2 linked regions of the Homo sapiens genome follow. The protein of the gene in region 2 purifies or fractionates together with the protein of the main gene of each other region. This does not show direct contact. Each region holds a gene or a part of one and is shown on either strand. Other genes may lie near its edges. The genes, in order: GSTO1 and ATOX1.

Evidence for each region.
Region 1: the proteins of ATOX1 (region 2) and GSTO1 fractionate together in Homo sapiens (co-fractionation; one large-scale study listed by BioGRID). This does not show direct contact.

What each region holds. Positions count from the first base shown.
Region 1 is NC_000010.11:104,257,816-104,261,634, forward strand, and holds part of GSTO1 (glutathione S-transferase omega-1), read left to right. Parts: intron 1-1,760; coding exon 1,761-1,983; intron 1,984-3,819. UniProt on the Homo sapiens protein: Exhibits glutathione-dependent thiol transferase and dehydroascorbate reductase activities. Has S-(phenacyl)glutathione reductase activity. Also has glutathione S-transferase activity.
Region 2 is NC_000005.10:151,748,512-151,752,330, reverse strand, and holds part of ATOX1 (copper transport protein ATOX1), read left to right. Parts: intron 1-551; coding exon 552-627; intron 628-3,819. UniProt on the Homo sapiens protein: Binds and deliver cytosolic copper to the copper ATPase proteins. May be important in cellular antioxidant defense.

The sequences.
Region 1 (3,819 bases), on a different chromosome or scaffold from region 2:
GTATCTTATTGACAATTTTGAAGCATTTCCACAGATTTATTCATTCATTTATATGAAATATTTCAAAACAAAAATATTTACTGAGTCCTTATTTGAAACTTTTTATTTTCTTCAGAGCATTTATATCTATATAGCATTTTGCTCATTTACATGTTTGTTTATTACTATGAACAGATACACAAGATCCCACCTTTCGTGAAGCTTACATTCTAGGAAGATAACAAACTTGTAAATAAGTGAGCAAAGTAATTTCAGATACATATTATCAGTTCAATGAAGAAAGTAAAACATGATAATCATGTAATAGAAGCTGCTCAGCAACTTCAGAGCTATGGTCAGGGAGGGCCTGGGGATGTGTGTTTGACCTGGGAAGACCTGGGAAAAGGCAGGCAGAGGAGGCAGAGGACCATCAAGTGCAAAGACTCTAAGGTGGAAACACATTTGGCAAATTCAAGGAATATAAAAACCGCCAACGTGTAAAAGAAAACATAGGGGAAAAGCTTCATGACACTGGCCTTGGCAATGATTTCCTGGACATGACACCAAAGACCAGGCAACAAGACCAAAAATAAACACATGAGACTACAGCAAACAAGCTTCCACACAGCAAAGGAAACGATTAACAGAGCAAAAAGGCAACCTATGGAATAGGAGAAAGTACTTGCAAACCACATACCTGGTAAGGGGTTAATCTCCAAAATACATAAGGAATCTCTACAACTCAACAACAAAAAAACCTGATTTTAACATGGGCTAAGATCTTACATAGACACTTCTCAGGCTGGGCATGGTAGCTCACGCCTATAACCCCGAGGCAGACAGTTCACTTGAGCCCAGGAGTTCAAGACCAGCCTTGGCAACATGGCAGAATCCTGTCTCTACAAAGAAATTAGCTGGGTGTGATGGTGCACGCCTGTGGTCCCAACTACTCGGGAGGTAGGAGGATCGCTTTAGCCCAGGAGGTCGAGGCTGCAGTGAGCTGCGATCAAGCCACTGTACTCCAGTCTGGGAGACAGAGTGTCAAAAAAAATTAAAAATTAAAAAAATAGACATTTCTTCAAAGAGGATATAAAAATGGGCAACACATATATGAAAAAGTTCTTATCACTAATCATCAGGAAAATGCAAATCAAAATCACATAATAACCTCACACTTGTCAAGATGACTATAATGAAAAAAGACAAGTGTTAGCAAGGATGTGTAGAAATCAGAACCTTTGCACACTGTTGGCGGGAATGTAAAATGGTACAGCTGCTATGGAAAACAGTATAGATGTTCTTCAAAAAATTAAAACTAGAACTACCATGTGATTCAGCAATCTCACTACTGGGTATATATCCAAATTAAATGAAATCAAGTTCTCAAAGAGATATTAGCACTCTCACGTAGACTGCAGCACTGTTCACAACAGCATAATGTCAATGTCCATCAGCAGATGAATGGATAAAGAAAATGTGTTAATGCTATTCCACCTAAAAAGGAAGGAAATTCTGCAATATGTGACAACATGGATGGACATTGCGGACATTATGCTAAGTAAAATAAGCCAGACACAGAAAGACAAATACTGCATGATTGTTCTTAAAAGGTGTATCAAAAGTAGTCAGATTCATAAAATCAAAAACTAGAATGGAAGGAATCTAGGCAGACTCCTAAATTTGGGGTCTGATCAGCTAAGTGGATGGCAAAGCCAGTGAGAATTTATCCAAAAGCACAAAAGTTGTTTCCTTCTCTTCATAGTCTCCTATGTGTCTTTCAGGCATGAAGTCATCAATATCAACCTGAAAAATAAGCCTGAGTGGTTCTTTAAGAAAAATCCCTTTGGTCTGGTGCCAGTTCTGGAAAACAGTCAGGGTCAGCTGATCTACGAGTCTGCCATCACCTGTGAGTACCTGGATGAAGCATACCCAGGGAAGAAGCTGTTGCCGGATGACCCCTATGAGAAAGCTTGCCAGAAGATGATCTTAGAGTTGTTTTCTAAGGTTTGTGCATAAGAAATTTCAGCTCCTATTTGAAAAACCTGTTTTTTAAAGCGAAATCAGTGCTGCCATTTATGGTTCAGTGATTTGGGAGAGAAAAACAAAACAGGAATATGCTTGTCAGCTCTGAGTGTCCTGCAAGTCCTTTCACGATCCAGTTCCTGTTTACCTCCAAAATTATCCCTTTTCACTCGTCTCCTGACACTTTATATATGCCAGCCATACTAAACTTTTCTCAGAATTCCCAAATTCGCCCCTTTCTCTTTCAATTCTTGCTGTCAGATTCTTCCCACTTCTCACTGTGCCTGGTTATCTCCACGTCATTTTTCACATGTCTGCTCCGACACTGCTGCCTTTTCAGGAGCTTGGCAGGCTGGTTAGTGCTCTAGCTTCTGAGTTCCCATCCGTGTGAACTTTTGCCTGCCTTCTTGCCTGTGTACTGCACTGGGGCTGTGAGCTCCTTGAGGGTGAGGGCTGTGTTTTGATCACTGTTAGTTCACTGCCTAGTTTTATGACTGGCTCTGCTACTTTCTTGTGACTCTGAGCAAGTTACTTATTACTTTGCCTCTCCGTTCATCATTGGTAAAATGGATATAGTAATTGTTCCCACCTCATAAGATAAAAATCAGTTAATATAAAACACCCAGAACAGAGTCTGACACATGGGAACTACTTAATTCTTGTCCTTATAGCCATAGCATCAAGCAGTGAGCATCTACTTTGTGTTGGCAATAACTCAGATGACTGAATAAATAGCAATCCTGTAGAAGAACTGTTTGTACCTTACTTAGCATCAACACTGTGGATTAGTTCAAACAATTAGTATTAACAAAGAAATGACTAAAAGATGTGTGTTTAGACACCAAGAATAGCATGTCTGGTTATATGCCTATAACATTGTCACCTTGGTAGTACGGTCAGTATATAAAGGATTATCTTTAGAGAAAAAGATGGTTAAAGAAATGCCCTAAGAGAGAGTTATAGGGAAAACATTCTGTTTTAGGAGACATTATAAAGGGAAGCCAATGGGACAGGAAGAGTGAGTCATCTGCTTAGTAAGATGAGGGTGAAAGAATAGTAGAGGCGGCTGCTGTGAAAGATAATGTAAAGGGAACATGACATTTTCAAGAACGATGTGGGAGAGTTTTACAAAGTAGTAACAAGTTAAAGGCATGCAGCTTCAAGACACGAAGTCATCAATACCAACCAAAAAAAATAAGCCTAAGTGGTTCTTAAAGAAAAATCTCTTTGGTCTGGTGCCAGTTCTGGAAAACTTTTTTTAGTATGGCTGGAATATAAAGTGTCAGGAGAAGAGATAAAAGGGGTAACTTTGGAGAGGTAAACAGGAACTGGATCGTGAAAGGACTTGTAGGACACGTCAGAGAAAATGAGCTTTAAAAGTAAAGCTTTTAGACATGAAGCTTTACTTTCATGCATAAAGCTACTACTTTAAAAAGTAGTCACAAGAGATTCATTGTACTATCTAGAAAGAAAATGAGATTTAAAAGTAATGCTGAAGATGCCCACCTTTACTTCCCTGCTTGGGTTTTAAAGGAGAGGTGGCTTTATGTACATATGACCCTGCTCTCCTGGCCACAGCCCATCAGAACAGAAATGTACCCCACCCCACACACCTGGGCCAGTTATCTTCTCTCCTGGGAACTTGGAAATGAGACACAGAACTAAGACAGTAAAGGTTAGGACAGTAAAGACAACTAAGCGTTGGGGCTCAAATAATGTTAATTAGAGGCTAGAAAAACCAAAGCCACTTAAGAAATAAATTTTTAGAGGAGCAAGAATTAAAAACATTGCAAAGGGACTGAAGTATGCAAAGTAATA
Region 2 (3,819 bases):
AATGCGGCCCTTGGATGAAAGCAGAATCACCTGGGGTAATGAGTAGACATAACAGATTCCCCAGCCCAGACCTGCTGACCAGAACCTGTAGTTTTTGCAAGCTGTAGGTGACTCTAGTGCAGAAAATAATTTTGTGGTTCATAAGTGGGCCCACCAGATCAGCATTGCTCAGAGTATGGGGGCCCATCCCTGTCAGAGTTACTGGTGGCCCTGAGACAAAGCTCATAGCTCAAGAATCAGTGTTTTGAAGGTAGGACTGGGAAAAAGCATTTTAAACTAGATCTCCAGGTGATTCTATTTACTATGTGCCAGACACTGCTAAAGGATTTATAGGGATGATTCCATTGAATACAACTTGTGAGGTAGAAACTCTTAGCTACTCTATAGTTGAAGAGACGGGCTCAGAAACAGGCTTCTGATGAGTCTGATGCCAACCAGGTCCTGCCCAGTCTCTCTGTCTTCTGTCTTGACCCTGAGTGGGCCTGTCTGCTGGCACTGTGTGGGGGTCACTCTACAGGGCTCGGGTCATGGTCCCCCTGTGTTTGTTTCAGAAGCACGAGTTCTCTGTGGACATGACCTGTGGAGGCTGTGCTGAAGCTGTCTCTCGGGTCCTCAATAAGCTTGGAGGTGAGTGAGTGGCCCTGAGTTGGGTGCACTTATGCCATGTTCAGATGCATGCAGATGTTGCAGGAGAGACTTAGGGTTAAGCTGATCATAACAGTAAAACTAAAATATATTGAGTACTTAGCACGTGCCAACTACTCTTGTTATTTTCTTAGTGGCTTATGTGAATCACATCATTTAATCCTCACCACGGCCATTTCAGATAGTTTTTTTTTTACTAGCTCCATGTTAAACAGGAGACAGCTGAAGTTCAGAAACATTAAATAACTTATCTGGGATCACATGGTCAGTAAATGGCAGAGCTGGGATTTAGCCAAATTAACTAGTACTGCCAGGAGTAGCTCTGGAGCCATGGCAGTACTAGTTCATATGTTGGTCATCTCCAGTGTGTACTGCATGACACATCTGAGTGTCATTTTCTATTGAATTTTTTTTTTTTTTTTTTTTTTTGAGACAGAGTTTCGCTCTTCTTGCTCAGCCTGGAGTGCAATGGTGCAATCTCGGCTTGTTGCAACCTCCGCCTCCCAGGTTCAAGCAATTCTCTTGCCTCAGCCTTCCAAGTAGCTGGGATTACAGGCATGCACCACCACGCCTGGCTCATTTTGTATTTTCAGTACAGACGGGGTTTCTCCATGTTGGTCAGGCTGGTCTCGAACCCCTGACCTCAGGTGATCTGCCCGCCTCGGCCTCCCAAAGTGCTGGGATTACAGGCGCGAGCCACCCTACGCAGCCTCTATTAAGGTTTTTTAAATGGGGCTGGGCACGGTGGCTCACACCTGTGATCCCAGCATTTCGGAAGGCTGAGGCGGGCAGATTGCCTGAGCTCAGGAGTTCCCGAGACCAGCCTGGGCAACATGGTAAAATGCCATCTCTACAAAAAATACCAAAAAAATTAGCCAGGCATGGTGTTACATGCCTGTACTCACAGCTAATTTAGGGGGCTGAGGTGGGAAGATCGCTTGAGCCTGGGAGGTTAAGGCCACAGTGAGCCTAGATCGTGCCACTGCACTGCAGTGGGGGCAACAGAGCAAGACCCTGTCTCCAAAAAAAAAAAAAAAAAAAGAAAGAAAAAAAGGAAAGATTTAAAAAAAGGTAAAAATTTTTAAAATTTTGTCTTTTTCTGTTTCTTTACTTCAAAAAAAAAAATTTAAATTAATTTTGAATCACTCACATGCAGATTTTTTTTTTTTTTTTTTTGAGATGAAGTCTCACTCTGTTTGTTGCCCAGGCTGGAGTGCAGTGGCATGATCTCAGCTCATTGCAGCCTCTGCCTCCTGGGTTCAGGCGATTTCCGGTGAATTTTTGTACTTTTCATAGATATGGATTTCACCATGTTGGCCAGGCTGGTCTTGAACTCTTGACCTCAAGTAATCCGCCTGCTTTGGTCTCCCAAAGTGCTAGGGTTACAGGCATGAGCCACCGCACCTGGCCACATGCAGATATTCTTAAAGCACCTCTTTTGAACAATCAGTCTCATCCAGCCTTGTCATTTTACAGCTGGGGAAACTGAGGCCCAGAGAGGACTGGGATCTGGTCCTGGGACTCAGTGAGGTAATAACTGAGTTGTGATCAGAGTTTTGGCAATGCCAGTGCTCAGTCAGCCTTCTAAGATTTTTTCTTTTCTTTTTCTTCCACATGAACTATCACACAATCTTCTAAAATTTTCTTTTTTAAAACCCTAAATAATAATGACATTAAGTTTTCAAATGGCTTCCACATGGACGTGATCTCATTAGCAGTCCTCTGAGCTGTACTTTCCATCTTTGGAATGGGGATGTCGATGCCAGTGTCCAGGAGGTTAAGTGACTTGCCCGTAGTCCCGCAGCAAGTCAGTGGCTGGCCTCTAGCCCTGTAAACTGGGATCTTAATCTGAAAGAAACTGAAACAGTGGAAAGAACCTAGCTGCTGACTTGTCATGTGACTGTGGGCCCTTCTTTCTCGGGCCTGGGTTTCCCCAGCTGTGGTATGGGAATGTATATCTTGTATGTCTGTATCAGCTTTTGCTGTTGATGCTTTTTTTTTTCTTTTTCTTTTTTTTTTTTTTTGGAGATGGAGTTTGCTCTTTCACCCAGGCTAGAGTGGAGTGAAGTGGCATGATCTCTGCTCACTGCAACCTGCTCCACTCTGCCCCGGGTTCAAGCGATTCTCCTGCCTCAGCCTCCCGAGTAGCTGGGATTATAGGTGCCCGCCACCACGCCTGGCTAATTTTTTTTTTTTTTCTGAGGCAGAATTTCGCTCTTGTTGCCCAGGCTAGAGTGCAATGGCGTGATCTCAGCCCACCGCAACCTCCACCTCCCAGGTTCAAGCGATTCTCCTGCCTCAGCCTCCTGAGTATCTGGGATTACAGGCTCAGGCCACCATGCCCGGCTAATTTTGTATTTTTAGTAGAGACGGGGTTTCTCTATCTTGGCCAGGCTGGTCTCAAACTCCTGACCTTAGGTGACCTGCCCACCTTGGTCCCCCAAAGTGCTGGGATTACAGGCGTGAGCCACCGTGCCCAGCCTGTTGATGCTTTAAAAATGAAACTGTACAGGAGCTCCTCAAATACAAAGCAGCAGGCTCTGGATGAAGTGGGGATGGGCCTAATTTCGTTTGACAGCTCAAAGACATCTACCCATCCCAGGAACTTCATCCAGGCTGGAGTGCAGTGGCGCGGTCTTGGCTCACTGCAGCCTCAACTTCCCAGGCTCAAGCCATCCTCCCACCTCAGCCTCCTGAGTAGCTGGGACTACAGGACCACACCCGGCTATTTTTTTGTTTTTGTTTTTGTTTTTTGTAGAGACAGGGTCTTGCTTTGTTATGCAGGCTGGGAAACCATATGTTTTGTTTGTTTGTTTGTTTGTTTTGAGAGGGAGTCTCACTCTGTCTCCCAGGCTGGAGTGCAGTGGCATGATCTTGGCTCACTGCAACCTCTGCCTCCCAGGTTCAAGTGATTCTCCTGCCCCAGCCTCCCGAGAAGCTGGGATTACAGGCACATGCCACACACTGAGCTAATTTTTGTATTTTTAGTAGAGATGGGGTTTCACCACGTTAGCCAGGCTGGTCTTGAACTTCTGACCTCAAGTGATCCACTCGCCTCAGCCTCCCAAAGTGCTGGGATTACAGACATGAGCCACCACGCCTGGCCAACCATATGATTTTTAAGGCCCCTTGCTGGAAGATCTGCCTTTAAGCTTCGGCAGGTTTCTGCCCATC